Linked DNA regions of Homo sapiens: region 2 is linked to region 1. Evidence: fine-mapped expression QTL. A gene starts in region 1. The other region holds a variant in brackets. All regions are shown on one strand. Distances are from middle to middle.

Region 1 (9,293 bases):
GTCAGAGGCCATATTTTGTTTCTGGAACCCCTCATTCAGGCTCAAAAGTGAACTGCTGGCCAGGTGTGGTGGCTCACACCTGTAATCCCAGCACTTTGGGAGGCCAAGGCGGGCAGATCACCTGAGGTCAGGAGATAGAGACCAGCCTGGCCAACATGGTGAAACCCTGTATCTATTTAAAAAATACAATAAAAATTAGCTGGGCATGGTGGCACATGCCCGTAGTCCCAGCTACCTGGAAGGCTGATGCAGGAGAATCGCTCGAACCCAGGAGGTAGAGGTTGCAGTGAGCCGAGATCATGCCACTGCACTCCAGCCTGGGCAAAAGAGTGAGAGTCTGTCTCAAAAAAAAAGAAAAAGGAAAAAAAAGTGAACTGCTACTTGGTGGTAATGCTGTATATAATATGGAAGTCATTCAAACACTTATTTCTTCCAAAATGTCAGAGACTAACTTTAAAGCAAGTACTGTACTATGTTCTATTTTTTCACAGGCCAGCAGGAGAAAAACCTCTCCAGGAAATTTTTAAACTGTTAAGCATGTATGGAAAAGCCACTGTGCCAGCTGCATCATTCTGAACAGAAGCAAAAAGCATAATCAGTGCTCTGCGATGGCATTTGGGGTATATAAAAAAATTCTAGCTATGTAGAATATTCGATAAAAATAACACATATTCTAAAGGTTTCAGGTAGCTGATACTTTATAGTACCTTTTCATAATATAATAGCACAATCAAAAGCAACTGAAAAATGTAGGGCTATTTACCTGTATAATTCAAAGGACTAAGATTGCAGTATTTTTATGATTTTCTGATTATAGTCAGCTGTCACTTCTAAATGATGACAATTTACCTATATTGCTTCTGTACTGCTCCCTTATTTTACAGTGAGAAGCAGGAAAGAAACCACTTGTTTGTGAAATAAATGCTATGCATCCAAGATGGCTCTTTACTTACTTCCAATTTTTTAGGTTGTATCCCAGAACCTTATATTAACAGGAATCTCACTCCACCCTGGACTACAGAGCCCCGTCTCAAAAACAAAAACAAAACCCAGGAATCTGACCTCTTGGTGAGTAGCAAATGATTGTGTGTACTGATAAACTTATCACCACTCAGGTTAATTTTTTTTTTTTGGAAACCGTTAACACCAAATGAAAGGGTCTATTTACTCAAGCTCTTTGTTCATGAACACGAAATAACAGCAAATGTTAGGCTCATAATATGGATATATGCCTATAAGTAACTCCAGCAACTTTAAATACAAAATGTATTTTACAAAATAAGAGCAGGGAATTTATTTTCCAGTATGTTCATACGAAACTCCTTCCACAGGAGAGTAGAAGGTGTCATCTCAGGAGGAAAAAGTCTAGAAATGTCTTCGGCAGGATTAAAATATAAAAATATAGCTATATAAAACTTAAGTGATGAGAGAAAAAACTAAAGGAGATAGGAGATTATTTTAACTTTATTACCTCATCTACTCATACAGGAGCTTTGCCAGATAAACATTATATTAACATTTCATCACTCCTGAATCAACAGTCATCACTTTGTCATATAACAGGTTCCCACTTGTTTTCTGATTTAGATTTTAGATTCAAATGTTTATCTTAAGGCTAATGTACCCTAGTAGGATGTAACATCAGTAACATTCAGAACATTTTTGAAAAAATAAAGACATATCTGATTCAAGAATATTATCTTTGTACTATTTTTTAAAGTAACTTTTTTTACTATATTTTTTAAGGTAATTGTAGTACACTTTTTAATTTACAATTAAGGCTTTGTTTCTCAATTATTGCACAGATAAAATTCTAAGGAATTTTCAAGCACTGATTAACTTAGTATCTACAAAAATTTGGGCCACCAAATGGAGACGTGGGATGATTTTATAAGATCCGAGGGCAGAGCTAAGTGACACTGAATTAAATGAGGAGGGGCCGGACACAGTGGCTCATGTCTGTAATCCCAGCATTTTGAGAGGCAGAGGCGAGGCGGATAACCTGAGGTCAGGAGTTTGAGACCAGCGTGACCAACATGGCGAAACCCTGTCTCTGCTAAAAATACAAAAGTTAGCCCGGTGTGATGGTGGGTGCCTGTAATACCAGCTAATCAGGAGGCTGAGGCAGGAGAATACCTTGAATCCGGGAGGCAGAGGTTGCAGTGAGCTCACTCCACTGCACTCCAGCCTGGATGACAGAGTGAGACTCCATTTCAAAAAAAAAAAGGTTACTTCCTCTTCATTCTCTTTCAGTTCCTCTGACTGTATCAAGAAGAAAGTCTCAGTTTGGTGCCAAGATGTTAACACCACTGAAATTCTTGCCAATCTCACTTTTAAACAAAGGGCAAGTTTTAGGCTTAGAGCCTCCTGCAGGCAATAGTTTCTAGTTAGAAATTAAGGGGACTTTGATTTTCATTATTTTTACGTATACGTCCACCTTCTGTTTATGGCAAGTGCCACCTGCTTTTTACTCAAAGTTATTCCAAGTTTCCTTTAAAATATTACTTTAATAATCACATTGATATAAAGAAATATTAATAACTAAACAGGAAGTATGCCAAACAGGAAGATATGGCCAAAATTTTGAAGATGATATCACAAAGACTGAAGTTGAGGAAATATTACATTAATCCATTTGGTCAACAAATAAGTGCCTGCTATATGTTTGCCACTGGGTTAGCCACCACAAAGAACAGAGAAGAATGATGAAAAAAAAAAATGTGAAAAGGAAAGTCAGAAGAGGAGGAAATTAATTCAAAATGAGGTAATCAAAAAAAGGTTCACAGGGTGGCATTTGAGCTAGGTCTTAAAGGTATAATTTAGACACTCAGAAACAGAAGAACATTCTCAGAGAGTAAAAGTATAACTATATGTGCCTGAGTGGTGGCATCTTCCAAATCTTGATTGTGGTGGTAGCTACACGGGTGCATATATATCTACTAAAACTTATTGAAATGTACACTTAAATGAATGTACATCAGTATATATAAATTTTTCCTTAATAAATTTGATACTATATAATTGACCAATGCAATGAAAGGTCATTGAGATTTCAGGCTTGGATAGCTTGGAGAGGAGGAAGTAAATACAATAAAGGAAAAAGGGAAACCGCCAGTTAAAGACAAGGGTATCATATTTTCATACAATTCTCAATAAAAACTGTTAACTATTACACAAAAAATATTAGCTTTATATTTCTACTTAATAGTTTTATTCCAGGGAGATAATTTACCTGAATTAACGCTTATCTATTAAAATTACATGTTCTCTTCCCACCTCTCCTATCTGCAAGCAAAATTGTGCATTAACAGCATTCACCCTAAGAAAGTAATAAAGAATGAACAGAATATCCACACTGGTGGTGTACTAGTGACACTTAACAGACTTTAGCAAAACAGTTTAAGATTGTGTTCAGCACACATCCTGTTTGTAAAGCAATTTAGAAGTAACTGTCTCAAAATTTGTGTTTTAGCCTTTAGCTCTTTTCCATGATATAAGCTCTTAAAATAGGTAGTTATTACACAGTAAGCACATTTTGGGTGGCTTCTACCATAATTTCATTTTAGGAATGCATGACTATAAGGAGAAATCATCACAGCAAAAGTGATGCCATTATCAACAAGTCTTCACTTGTTGGAACCTCAAAATGCCATTTTGAATAAAATCAATAACTACACTCCACCATCAAATTCAAAACATGAATTATGGTTTTAAAAAAGTCAAAAAACCAGAAAGAATAAGATAAGTCTTCTGCCAATAATTAAAGCATTAAGACTCATGGGAACTTAAGTGTATCATTAATATTTTACTAAGAAAAATATAATTTTTTTTATACAAGTGAGTTGCCACTAGATCTTCATGCTCCAAAAAGTTTAAAATGACAGCCAAAAAATAAGCCTAATGCATGGACCTTTACAGTTGAAGAGGACTCAGCTTAAGTACAGCAGTTTTTAAATTTATATTCTATGTAATTATATTCTAAGAGTTGTTAACCATTTGGCCATGAGAAAATAGATCAGGTAAATTTGGGAATGCTAGGATAACCTTCTGGAGATTTACATGTATCAGCATAACAGTAAAGGTTTTGAAGAGTCCTGCCTTTATAAGCAAAAAAGTTAAACCTAGTTTAACCTAGTGTGCTCCCAAATTATTTGCCATTGAACACTGCTTTGGGGAAAGTAAGCCTATTAAATGGTTTTAGAACACTGTTCTGGGGGAAACATCAGTTTGGAAAACCCTGGTCTTTTCAAATTTCCTTAAACAATGACAAAACCGAAGCCTGGAGATCACACCTGGTTAGTAGCAGATTAAAGCACTTGAATCTAATCTCTTCATTCCCAGGCCAGAGCTCACTCCTTTACTTTAACTACAAAATAGGACTTCTTTGAATGTATACAAACATTTAACTGACAACACTTACCTTACATTTAAGATTTGGGTTATGGTGTCACATTTTCTGGTTTGTGTATTAAATCAGGTGTTTTTAGTTCCTTCAGCACTAGGTACCTAATAATCAAGCCCACGTGGAGATTTGCTACTGCTTAACAATTACAGAGAATGATTTAGTTATCAGTTGTGGCCGAAAGTAATCACTAAAATAAAGCATTTAGACTACTCGTGGTTTTAATTTACTCATAACTTCAGTCGGCCCACCTAAATCACTGTGTTATCTATCAGGTGGTGAGTTACTTAGCACATAATGCCGACGTATGTTATTCACTGTAGACCATATTAATACCCACAAACAAAATTAAAATGTGAGAACTTATGTCTGCATAGACAATGGCCAACAACATCAAAACAGATTTTTCTCTCTCTACAGTTCAGGGCCTATTTGTCAGGCAAACAGTTTCCTACATTTTTGGTAATTATCATTTTTTTTGACTGCTTTAGCTGGAGTCGAAGTCATTTTCCCAATCTTTACATTTCTCAAACGCCATAGAACTCTAAGATAGTGTAAAAATGTTCAAACACAATTTACTTAGCTTAAGAAAAATAGTTGTGTGCCATTCCCCGCCCCCCTCAGGGTACAGGAATGGAGGAGGCCCGAACAAGTGACTATTGTTATGTTGCAACTTTAAAAGGCTTAGGAATCAAAGGTGATAATTGTTAACAACACCCGTTTGACTCTTCTGACTTCCTCTTAATAAACTTCGGTACTCCTTTCTAAGCCCCACGGAGAACATGAACCATCGCGGGCCTACGTGTCTCCTCAATGCTAAAAGAACCCACCAGCCGAGAAGGCACAACGCCTCGATTCCTTCAACAAAGAGGGTACTCCGCACGCCTCCATCGCACAGGTGCGACCTCTGCCCCAGCCTTGCGCACCGCTCCGCCCCAGCAGGGGAGGCTCGGGACCTGTCCCCGGCTCCCCGGCCCCGCCTCCGGCCTCCCTCACCTGGGGCCGCCCTCGCGCCTCTGCCCGGCCCAGGCCCCGGCCCCAGCCCTGGCCCTCCAGTCCCCGCGCAGCTCCCGACTCCCCGTAAACCAGAGGGCGGCCGACCAGCTTCGCAGCTCCTGGCGGGGCCGGAGCGGCAACACCCCCGACGCCACAGCAGTCAGACTCGCAAGGCGTCCCCGCGGCTCAGGACCTAGCCGGGCCGAGAAGGATGCTCGGAGCCGGCTACCAGCCTAGCGGCCGCACTGGGGGCAGGGACGCTTTTACCTGCTGCTGGCTCGGCCGCTTCTCGCCGGCGCAGCTCTCCTGGCAACCACGGCAGCTACACCGAGACCGGGAGCCGAAGGGCCTAGTGACAGCTCCCAGAGTGCACCGTGCTCGCGCCCACGCCGGCGTCGACGTCTGAGGCCTTCGATCCCCGCCCCCGATCGGCTTCCTGCCTCCCGGCGCTAGCTGTTGCCACAGCGCCCTCAAGTGGACTGTCGCGGGAAGCGGCCATGGCTACCAATTTCAGGAGTGGCTAGAAAGGGGGTTAGCAGATGTTTTCATTTGAAGAGATAATAGGAACTGAAAACAGCTTTTAAATATTATTTGAATAGTTTCTCAATATTTCATATGAGTAACCTGCATCCCAGAGAGGTTAGGAGACTTGTGAAGTTAGGAGACAAGTAGTTGGTGTCAGATTTGGAACTATTTTGAGTCTAGAGCTCTATCAATCATATCTAGTTACTCCAAGGTAAATTGCACCGTTTTGCCAACACCATACCGTAAAAAAATGAAAGTTTTTACAAATACGTAACTAAATATATAAAAATCTTTTAAGCTAACAAAACAATTATAAAGAGTAAGTTGTGCTACGGAAGTTGTATATTTCAATATAATGTGTCAATATTTAAGCATTCAATAGCCTCGGGTACTAAAGGTGGAAGATATGAAGAGTTGAAATCATCATCCTTCAAATAGATGAATTATTTGAGACCAAATAATAGTAAACTTTATTTTTTTAAGTGAGTTGTTGCTTCCATCTATAACTTCAAATTATTGTGATAGATATAATAATTTGTGCATCAACATAATAAACTTTAATCACCCCAAATACTGATTTTAGAAAAATTGTCAAGCTATTATCTTAAAATATATGACAGGATTTATTTATTTAGAATTTATTTATGGTTTAGGCTGGGCATGGTGGCTCACACCTGTAATCTCAGCACTTTGGGAGGCCAAGGTGGGCGGATCTACCAAAAACAGAAAAATTAGCCGGGCATGGTGGCGCGTGCGCCTGTAATCCCAGCTACTCGGGAGGCTGAAGCAGGAGAATCGCTTGAACCCAGGAGGCAGAGGTTGCAGTGAGCCGAGATCGCGCCACTGCACTCCAGCCTTGGCGACAGAGCGAGACTCCGAAAAAAAATAAATAAATAAAAGCAGCTCCTTGTTTTTAAGAAGCCCTATTGTAATTCTACCCGGTCTTATATTTTAATAGTTCTTCATTATAAGTATTTACATTATACCAGGTTCTTTACTGTGTCAAACTTTTCAAAACTATCTTCTGGTAGTAAACTTCTCCAACTTCTCTTAGTTTTTACTTTTGTGAAAGTGAATAGTGGAGCTGTACATACGTAATCATTCTCATCTTCCTTTTTTACCCCCTAAAAAATGGTTAGTCCTGATAGACTTCAGCCACACTCTTCTGCATTAGGTAACAAAGAACTTCCTTATATTTTTGCACCTGTTTCAATTTTGGAGCTATCCTGTCTAAGTTGAGAAGCAATGGCAAGTCAATTCTTGAAAATTTTGTCGCTTTAGATAGAGGCTAACAAACGACCCTTGTTCATAAAGAGACCAAGATAAAGTGGGTTTGGGGCCGGGAATTCTGTTCTTGCATCTCCTGGGGACAAAGCCCACCTGTAACACTTGCCTCCATCATCTCCCTCCCTTCGAGCTAGCCAAAGGTGTGAACCCTGGGTCTGATTTTTATGGTCATTTCCAGGGATGCTAACGCGCCAAGTCACGCTCATAAGAAGCAGAGTGGGGCGATAGCTAGCCTCTCGCCGCCCACCTTTCTCAGCACTCTGGGCCAAAGCCTGGTTTTGAAAATGCGCGCCCCGCCCCGGCCTCCGGGGTCACGCGCCTTCTCGGTGGTGCACTCTCCGGCCGGCAGGTGGCGCTGTGAGCTGGTAGGCGGCGCCAGCCCTGCGATCTGGCACAGGCGCCTGCGCCGCAGCGGGGCTGCCGCTGGTTGGTCCGCACGTGGAACCTCTCCTGGTCCTGTTGACCCGGGCCCCTCGGAACCTCCAGCTTGGTCCGGTCTGGGACTGGAAGCCTGCCATGGCGGCTTCTGCGGCGGAGACGCGCGTGTTTCTGGAGGTGCGGGGACAGCTGCAGAGCGCGCTTCTGATCCTGGGGTAAGAACTGGGATTCTAGGCGCAGTGCCCAGCTCGCTTTACTGCTGCCCGGGGGTCGGGGGCTGGTGAGTCTCTCTCTGTACGAGGGATTTTGAGTTTCTTCTTTCCAGTTGCGTAGAGCCTCTCGATCACTCAAAGTGAAGCTTTCCCCTGTAGTCGGCTCCGCCACTCCCACCCCTACTGACAGTGTGGGTATCTTTGGGGAGCTTTTTAGAAATTCAGGGTCTCAGCTCCACACCAGACTTATGGAATCAAAACTTATATTTTAACAAGATTTCCAGGAATCAAATGCACATTAAAATTTGAGGAACAGTGATGTAAAACACTGTTGGCAGTGCCCGGCGTTTCCAACAAAACAATGCAAAAAATGATTTGTCTGTCTCTCTTCGGGATCCTCCTTACTGGATCAGTTCCTATGTGAGCTTCTTGTTTTGTAAATAACCTCGGGTCTTTTCGTCCAAAACTGCTCTTTGCAGAGAAACCACACAATCATTCAATAAACGTGAGTTTAGTGAACCACTAAGACAGGTTGTAGACTTCTTACTGGAGCTCGTTCATTTATTCATATTCTTCCTTCCAGTGAGAACGTCAAACTTGTTATTCGCTACACAAATAACTTTTAGGAAAAATGTTCTCTATTTTGTTTGACAGCAGTTTTAATGATTTGTGGTCCCCTTGTCTATTCCTTTGTGATCGCTGTTTCAAAGAGAGTAAGTTAGAAGTTAAAATCCTGAGAATGGTATTACACGGTGCCACAGGTAGATTGATGCTTAATTTTTTCCTCTTCCCTAAATCTGCCAGATATCTGGTGTGGCAATTTGGAATATGGCGTGAGAACTGAGTTCAAATGCTAGCTTCCTCACGAAATTAGAATAATTTAATCTGAATTTCTTCAATCTTGAAATGGGAATAATAGTACTCTGAATGTATTTCTTTTTCTCTTTCAAAATTTATGAATTTGGACAAATATCTCCAATTCTGGTGCACCTTGTAGAGTAATTAGGAACCCAAACCCTACCAAAATAAAACAAAAACCACACACACACAACAAACCCTCCCTTCCTCTCATGCAGGGGCCTTTCACAGTTCCCTTGGACTACTCTCCTTTGTTTAGGCAAGGTACCCGGGTGGCTCATGCCTGTAATCCCAGCACATTGGGAGGCTGAGGCGGGCGGATCACGAGGTCAAGAGATCAAGACCATCCTGGCCAACATGGTGAAACCCTGTCTCTACTAAAAATACAAAAATTAGCTGGGTGTGGTGGCGCGCACCTTTAGTCAGTCCCAGCTACTCAGGAGGCTGAGGCAGGAGAATGGAGTGAACCCGGGAGGCGGAGGTTGCAGTGAGCTGAGATCGCGCCACTGCAGTTCAGCCTGGCAACAGAAAGAGACTCCGTCTCAAAAAATAAAAAATAAAAAGAAAAAAAAAGAAACCTAACTTTGCTGGACTTAGTTTTGCCATTTCTTGAACTACTTATAAATGGATTCATA
Region 2 (9,293 bases), 19 kb before region 1:
AGCTATTTCATTATCAATCCATGGTTTCTAAAACTTTTAAATACTAGATTTAACCATAAACACACACACACAGCATACACACAAAGCAATACCTGTATGTATGTCAGATACAAAAGACTAGCACACTAAAACAAGTAAGGCCATAAACTCTGATAGCTAATAAAACAGTTAAATACCAACAGTGACATATATGGAATGAAGGTTAGAGTGAACACAACCTAAAACATTTCTAGTTCTGTTTCTCAGAAATCAGAAGGATAGCAAAACCAAATTAAACTCAGGGAAAATATCAACTTGACTGGATTTTCTGAAAGCACATAAAATTCGTATAAAATAACTAAAATCCAATCAATGAATTTAAGAATGTGGTAGACAGAGTAAAACACACGCATAAATTTTATCAGCAGGAACATTTTTTTTCCTTCCTTAGCAAGATTTCCAGAATAAGATATAAAATAGCATTCATTTTGAAGACATATAATATTCAGTGCATGAGGAAGATTAACCTGCCAAGCAATTTAGTAGTAATTTCTATTAATGAAAATAGGGGTCATTTATCAGCCTAATAATTTTTAAGCAATATTATCTCAACATACACATCCTTCAGATAATCTTATTTGCTATAAAAAAGTCAATTAATAATGACCAGCTATGTCTGTAAGGCTTATAACTCTTGTATGCATCTACAGCTAAAAAGTTTGGTCAGGTAATTAATTTGAACTTTCTTACTTTTTTTTAGGCAATAAATTCCTAAATATTTAAATATGATTAAAAAGACTTCATATAGCTTGTTTGTTTGATATATGTTTATATCAAACATATAAAACAAAATATTAAAAGCAAAATCTTAAATTGCTGAAAAATGAGAAGAGACATTTTGCAGAAGTTTCATCAGCAGAGCTGCAGTATTACTTTTCATGTGAAAAGATGGTTGATATGGTTTGGCTGTGTCCCCACCCAAATCTCATCTTGAATTCCCATGTGCTGTGGGAGGGACCTGGTGGGAGGTAACTGGATCATGGGGGCAGGTCTTTCCCATGGTATCCTCATGGTGGTGGGTGAGATCTGATGGTATTATAAGGGAGAGTTTTCCTGTACAAGCTTTTTTTTTTTTTTAATTTTTTTCCTTTGCCTGCTGCCATCCATTAAGATGTGACTTGCTCCTCCTTGCCTTCCCCATGATTGTGAGGCTTCCCCAGCCATATGGAACTGTAAGTCCGATTAAACTTCTTTCTTCTGTAAACTGCCCAGTCTCAGGTATGTCTTTATCAGCAGCATGAAAACTAATACAATAGTCAAATCCTAGGACTAAAAATTTAGTTGTAATTCCACAATGACTTTAATGCAAATAAAATTGTCATTATATATCAGAAAAGAAGTGTAAAGATACACCATTTTAAGCCTTTCATCCAATATATACATACAAATTGCAGTTCTCAGTCATTTTCCCCCATATTTTGTTTTATAATGGCTTAGGTCAATACTTCTCAAACTATCTGTAGTGAAAGATCAGTATTTCCACCAAATCCATCACTGACCAATACTTTTCTAAAATATAAAATCATGTGCTTTAGTTGTTGCAGTAATATTAAATTGCTATAAAAGTTTCTAAATGTTTACTTTTATCTCTGTGCTTATTTCACCATGTCTCTTAACAAAGTTTGTGAATAACACACTTTAAACACCACTGACTTAGATCATAATGCAAATATAACGTATCCCCATAGTGTATCAAACTTTATACCATGCCTCTTCTCCAGAATAAACACAAAATAAATAGACATACTTAATAACAGAGTAGTGTTTCACAGAAACCCCAGGCGATGAAAAGACAGGCAGTAGACGGTAGGGCCTCCAAGAACAGGGGTTAAAGTCAAGATGACCTAAATCTAAATCCTAGCTCTAATACTTACTTAGCAGCTGTATGACCTTGGGCAACATGCTTAATTTTGTCAAACCAGTTTTCCTTATCCATTAAATGAGATGAAAACACTTATACTTGAATGGCTGTCAAAATTAAATAAGTAACATACTAAAGTTATCAGAGTGCTCAGCACATAGAAAATGCTCAAGAAACAGTTGTCGTCATTATTTCCTACGAAATCAAAACAACACTGGGAAGCAAGTATGTTAATTAAGAGGGGTAGTAAGTTATAATTAAGCATCAGATGTGGCTCTGAATTTCTTGGCAGCAAACTGGAAAACTGAGGACTCACTAACCTATCTTGAATTGTCTTGTGAATATTAGTTAAAATGTAGTATTATTGCCAAACATGTTTTATGGCTTTGTTAAACTGTATATATTTAATACACATATTTGATGAGTTCTGACTAGTGCGTGCACCCATAAAACCATCACCACAATCAAGATTCTTCACTACAGTTAAGATACAGAACATTTCCATCATCTTAAACGTTATATCAAACATTTACATCATCTCTGTCAAATGAGCTGTTTTGTTTGAAATTAACTCCCTCCTCTCAATAACCTGCAACTTTCCAGGAGATACAATAACAAACTATTTATTTAATATAACCAGGAAACTTAAAAAAATAAAAATAAAAATTCTAGCTTGTTTAAAGTGATGCAAGTAAATCAAAGTTGCATTTGTAATCTTTCTTCTAGGGGCTGTTAATCGTAGTTTCTCTGACTTGATCTTTAGTCCACTGGACAATTTAGTTGCAATACTTTCAAAGTTACAACTCAGATAAATTGGACCTGAATTGTCATGAAACATAATTTAGTGTCATGTTTTGTCTCACAAATATAACATATATCAATTATAAAAATAAAGCAAAAAAGCTGTTTATGAAAAAAGATAAAAGCTGTAGATTTCTCTGGGCAAGTTATGCCCTATGAAAAAATTAGTAGGTAGTACAGATTTGTTTTTACACTTTATAGCATAAAAAGCTAAAATTTAAATAAGAAATGAAATATTGTATCATACCATCTCAATTTTTAAAAGTTCTGTTTAAATGGTGATAAAAAGTGAGTAGACCTCACTTCAGAATAACAACACAAAGATACTTTGGCTAGTTTGCTTATCACTAGCTGCATTTTCTCTTTCTCTCCTTCCTTTGCCACAAAAGGCAGGGGGAGGGCTGAAAAGAGAAAAGATTCATTATTACTCAATTCCAAAGATGTATCTGGGGACTAAGTGTTTCTAGCACATCCCAAGAATATAAATTAATGAATTATTGTAAGCACCATGCAATGGGGCAAAAAACCCTGCTGTTGTTTTTGAAAGAGAACATCGGAAAAAAAGCTATATAAGTAGATGCTCTTTCCAAACTTTTCTAACTAATGAAAAATTACCATTCAGTAATTGTTACCATCTAACAGATGTAACCATTAATAATCTATTTCATTTTGGTCAACAGTTCTAGGTTCCAATGTTGGCACTGTCACTAAATAATCTTCAGGAATCATTTATTTAGTCAATTCATAAAGCCAGTCACTCCTGAAAGCTGGAAACTTCCCTTGAGTGTTAAAAATATGGATGAAGGCCGGGCATGGTGGCTCACACCTGTAATCCCAGCATTTTGGGAGGTTGAGGCGGGCAGATCACGAGGTCAGGAGATCAAGGCCATCCTGGCCAACATGGTGAAACCCGTCTCTACTAGAAACACAAAAATTAGCTGGGTGTGGTGGTGCATGCCTGTAATCCCAGCTACTGGGGAGGGTGATGCAGGAGAATCGCTTGAACCTCAGAGTTGGAGGTTGCAGTGAGCTGAGATCGCGCCACTGCACTCCAGCCTGGGGACAGAGTGAGACTCCATCTCAAAAAAAAAAAAAAAAAAAAA[AG/G]ATGGAAGACAACACTTACTAGGTATTTTACAAATAGGTTATTGTCACTCATTATAAACCTGATGCTCTGTACTTCCCTAATCTGATCCAATCTCCCATGCCCTTACTGTTGTCTCAAACTTTCAAATGGTATACACTCTAGGAAACTTCAGATATGTGCTCAACAGATCATCAGCCTTTCCTCTGCATGTCCTGTCACCTTCTAGTCTTAATTATGCCATTCCTTTGCTTAAAACCCATCAATGGTTGGCCGGGTGCGGTGGCTCACACCTGTAATCCCAACACTTTGGGAGACCGAGAGGGGTAGATCATGAGGTCAGGATATCGAGACCATCCTGGCTAACACGGTGAAACCCGTCTCTACTAAAAAAATACAAAAGGTTAGCCGGGCATGGCGGCAGGCGCCTGTAGTCCCAACTACTCGGGAGGCTGAGGCAGGAGAATGGCATGAACCTGGGAGGCGGAGCTTGCAGTGAGCTGAGATCGCGCCACTGCACTCCAGCCCGGGCAACAAAGCAAGACTTCATCTCAAAAAAAACCAAAACAAACAAACAAACAAACAAAAAAACAAACATCAATGGTTTTCCCCAAAGCTTGTCCTGTCGCCTTCTAGTCTTAATTATTCTCTGAGGACAAGACCTCTTCTAACCTTACAGTGTACTTACTAAATACCAGGAACTATTCAAGTGCTTCGTGTATTTTAATTAATTTAATCCCAGTTGATCCTTTGCAGTAGGCACTATTACTCACATTTACAAGTAAGGAAACTGAAGGATAGAAATGATATGCAATACAGCTAGTAAATGGGAGAGGTAGGGATTTAAACACAAGCAATTTGGCTTTAGAGTCCTAACTCCTAGTCATTACTCTTCACTTTCACGGAGGCTGTTTTCCTTCTCATACCCATCCTACCTTGGGGTAAAGAGTGTGGAATCTTCCTCTTTATACTCATCTGACAAAACTCCAATCCTGGTTAAACTCAACTACATGTTTTTTTTTGTTTTCAGCCTGAAAATGAGCAACTAAACATTGGAGAAAAAAATCATACAATCAGGTTGACTTAAATTGAGAAGCACAAACTTCAAACAGGTACTCAACACTATCCTAACCCACTGTTTCCTTAGTAAATTTAAGTTCTTGACACAACTATTTCATACCTTCTCTTCTCAAAATCCTAATACTGTCTTCCCTCCATCATTGCTAAAGATCTAGTTTCAAACTTAAGAAAATGGAAGCAAAAAGAATATTCTTACCTTCCCTCCAACAAATCTGTAACCTATCTTCACCTATACCCATATTCTCTACTTTTCTTTCCATTATGAAGGACAAAGGACCTTCCTCCCAGTAAAGGCCTCCCTCTTGCTGTGTTCTGAATCTGGTCTCCTCTTGCCTTCCCAAGGACTATTAGCTCAGGCTCCTTCAATACTATCAGTTTCTTTTCCTGTCTACAGCCTAAAGTCTACCCCCCGAATCTCTCATGGTCTAAAACTAAAACTAAAACTAAAACTAAAATTAAAACCCATAGCCTTTCCTTGACCCCCACAGGCTCTCTGGCTGCCAACCCATTTCTTTATTCTCTCATAGCAAAACCTGAAAGATTTCTCTATATTTGCTATTTTTTCCTTATCTTTTATTCACTCTTCAGACTCCGTGAAATGCCTATGGGACTGTCCCTCCAGGAAAAAAACCCGTATAAAAATCACCCATAATGTGCTTTAACCAAAGCCAAAGGTCACTTCTGTAGCCCCTCATTTTATTCAACTCAGCAGTATTCAATACCTTGTTTTTGGCTTCCGGGACTCTTCCCTCTCAAGGTTTGTTATCTCTTAGCCTCTTTTTTTCAGTTTATGTTGGCTTCTCTTTTCTATTCAATTTTAAATGCTGAGGTACAGCTGAGTCTTGAAAAACATGCAATTTGAGTTGCATGGGTCCGTTTCTTCGTGGATTTTCTTCCACTTCTACTACCTACCCAAGACAGCAAGACCAACCTCTCTTCTTTCTCCTCCTCTTCCTCTGCCCACTCACAGTGAAGACAATGAGGTTCATGAAGATCTTTGTGATGATCCACTTCCACTTAATGAACAGTACATATATTTTCTCTTATGGTTTTCTTACTATTTTCTTTTCTCTAGCTTATTTCATTATAAGAATACAGCATATTATACATATAACCTACAAATGTGTTAATCAACCATTTATGTTACCAGTAAGGCTTCCAGTCTATAGTAGGCTATTAGTAAAGTTTTTGGGGAGTCAAAAATTATACGTGGATTTTCGATTCATGGGTCAGCCTTACTTCAAGGTTCAATCAGGAACCCTCCTCTCTTCTTTCCCTTTAGGTTATCTCCTATAGTCCTATAGCTCCAATAGCATCTGTTAACTGATGTGTCCTAAATCTATACCTGCCACTTTTCCTCTTCTATTATTCTAACCAGTTATAGCCCACTCCAGCACACCACTGATTCCTGCTTCTATTCTTGAGAGTCTGCATAATTCATCCTCCACAGAGAAGCCAGAGACACATTATGTCATTCCTTTGCCTAAAACCTGTCAATGGCGATAGAGCGAGACTCTGTCTCAAAATAACATAACATAACATAACATAACATAACATAACATAACATAACATAACATAACATAAAATACCGCAAAAAACCCATCAATGGTTTTCCTCAAAGCTTGTCCTGGTCACCTTCTAGTCTTAATTATTCTCTAAGGATAAGACCTCTTCTGATACAGCAGAAACAGCAACATCTTAGCTATACCCTAAATACAAATATTCCAATACAAAGCTTAGAATAATATCCAAACTCAAATACACCAATTTTTTTTGCATTCTAGGCATTTTGTTCTTGCTATTCTCTACATTTAAAATCTCTTTGGTCAACTCTATGTGACAGATTTCTTCCCGTCCTCCAGTAATATCAAACCCTACCAAAAGTTCTTTCTGATCAGTCTAAGTAGCCTGCCTGGGGCCAAACTCTTACCACATACCCTATAACATCACATTATTTCCTTATTAGCATTTGTTACACTTTGAAATTTTCCTATTTATTTGCTTGTTTCCTGTCTATCATCTCTCAATGGGATGCAAATACTATGAAGTCAATAGCCTTATCTTAGTTGTTCATACCTGCATCGGCAGTCCCATAATAGTGGCTGATAAACAGTAGGGCCTCAAATATAATCTGAATAAATGAACTAATCTATCAACGACAATATAGTTAAACCATTTTCGTTTGTTTTTTCTGAGAAAAGCTTTGTAGAAGAAAAATAAAAAGCAGAACTACAGTTCTATTTCTTAACTAGTATAGTCACACTTGACCTTACTCTCCTCAAATACAGAATACATTCACATGGCTATTAAGTGCTTTAAAAAACAGATTGCCTAAGAACATTTATAAAAATGTGTACATTCCAGTTACACTTTTAAAAAACTGGCTCAGTTTAATCTGTATTAAACATAACTATCTAAATGTGAAGGAAGTCATTCCAGCCCTGTGAAAGGAGATTTAAAAAATCCTATTTAGGCTGGGTGCAGTGGCTCATGCTTGTAATCCCAGCACTTTGGGAGGCCAAGGCAGGCAGATCACTTGAGGCCAGGAGTTCGAGACCAGCCTGGCCAACATGGTGAAACCATCTCTACTAAAAAAAAAAAAAAATACAAAAATTAGCCAGGTGTGGTGGTGCGTGCCTGTAATCCCAGCCTCTTGGGTGGCTGAGGCACAAGAATCGCTTGAACCCAGGAGGTAGAGGCTGCAGTGAGCCAAAATGGTGCCACTGTACTCCAGCCTGGGCTACAAAGCAAGACTCTGTCTCAAAAAAAACAAAACAAAACAAAAAAAACAAACTACTTAGGTATGATACTCCCAGACGTCGAAGTCAAATCTTTTCAAATTAATTAGCTGCAAATCTCAAGCTGGAGAAAAATTTGGAAAAAGTTTTATTATACTTTATGTACTTATTTATAGTCATGCATTGCTTGATGGGAATATGTTCTGAGATGTGTTGTTGGGTGATTTAGTTATTGTGTGAACATTCATAGAACATGCTTAAACAGACATAATGGTAAACCCTACTACACATCCTGGCTATATGGTATAACCTATTGCTCCTAGGCTGCAAACCTGTACAGCATGTTATATATTGAATACTGTAGGTAACTGTAACACAACAGTAAGTATTTGTGTACCTAAAAATAGAAAAGTACAGTAAAATACAGTATTAAAACCTTACGGGACCACTGTTACATAGGTGGGCCATCATTGAAATGTTATACAGCATATGACTATTTATATTTTCACTTTAGGTCTCAGAAAAGCTATACGAATAAAAACCTAAGACACAAGAGGTTTAAAAGCCCATAGATCTGCCAAGGTGACAGTGAAGCTGATTTAACTTTACGATTTCTTTTTTTACCAAGTAAATATACACAAAATTATATACGTTATTAAAAATTGTCTCTGAATGCTATAAAATCAGATTCTTTCTCATTTCAAATTCTGTGATTTCTGGTACACATAGCAATATGAAAATATTAATTTTAGAAAATACAAAACATAAGCACCATTTATAACTTGGAATGAGCCATTAGCAGGTAGGTGGGATTCTACTTTAAGCTTCAAATGGCAAACAGCCATAATAATAAACACTTAAGCACATACCCTTGAGTTACAAAGGATCATCCTGTCTCCAAAGCATAGTAGCCAAATAAACATTGTCCACGTATTACTCAAGATGATGATAATAATCACAGTTGATACTGACTTACAAATTACTCTGTGCCAGGCACTATACTAAGCCCTTTCATGTGAATTATCTCATGTATCTTCACAATACATCCATGAGGTAGATATACACATGAATCCATGTTCATATAAGGCAATTAGTGTTCAAGGTGCCACAGAGAATAAAAGGAAGAACCAGGAAGAACTCTGGCAGACTGACTCCTGGAATTGGCCCTTAATCAGTATCTTTCTGAACTTTTTTTTTTTTTTTTAAACCACAAGTCTTAATTCTCCTGCATGACATATTCTACCTCTCCTCTCTCATTAACTTTTTTCAAAAAACTTTTCCGGCTATATAGATTTCTTTCTTAGAAATTGTACTTAAAAAAAAACTATAATAATGTAAATACATATGTTATTCTTCCTAGACCTTGAATGAAGCACAGGGACCAAAGCTCAACTCAAAATACCCCAAGTGGTTCACCACTCAATACTGATAGTGTTTAAAATATAAGGCAAAAATGATCATGATTCTGATACAGAAGTTTTTATTTTTGGTTGTTATCTATAAAAGAGTGGGTTTTTGGCCAGGCATGGTGGCTCATGCCTGTAATCCCAGCACTTCAGGAGGCTGAGGCGGGTGGATCACCTGAGGTCAGGAGTTTGAGACCAGCCTGGCCAACATGGTGAAATCCCATCTCTAATAAAAATACAAAAATTAGCTGGGCGTGGTGGCAGGCACCTGTAATCCCAGCTACTTG

The links.
Region 2: its variant is fine-mapped to the expression of DOP1A in neutrophils (BLUEPRINT, PIP 0.95).

The regions. Positions count from the first base shown.
Region 1 is chr6:83,064,152-83,073,444 of GRCh38, reverse strand. DOP1A (DOP1 leucine zipper like protein A) reads right to left here and starts at 5,774. Exons shown (of 39, transcript NM_015018.4): 1 at 5,666-5,774. UBE3D (ubiquitin protein ligase E3D) reads left to right here and starts at 7,604. Exons shown (of 10, transcript NM_198920.3): 1 at 7,604-7,803. The coding sequence starts at 7,727. RefSeq lists enhancers at 2,191-2,250, 5,716-5,865, 5,896-5,965 and a silencer at 5,276-5,545.
Region 2 is chr6:83,082,932-83,092,224 of GRCh38, reverse strand. All of the region lies in intron 1 of DOP1A (DOP1 leucine zipper like protein A), which reads right to left. Among named protein-coding and RNA genes, the nearest start is that of DOP1A, 20 kb to the right of the region's middle. RefSeq lists an enhancer at 5,232-5,381. The variant AG/G (reference allele first, on the strand shown) is at 3,805.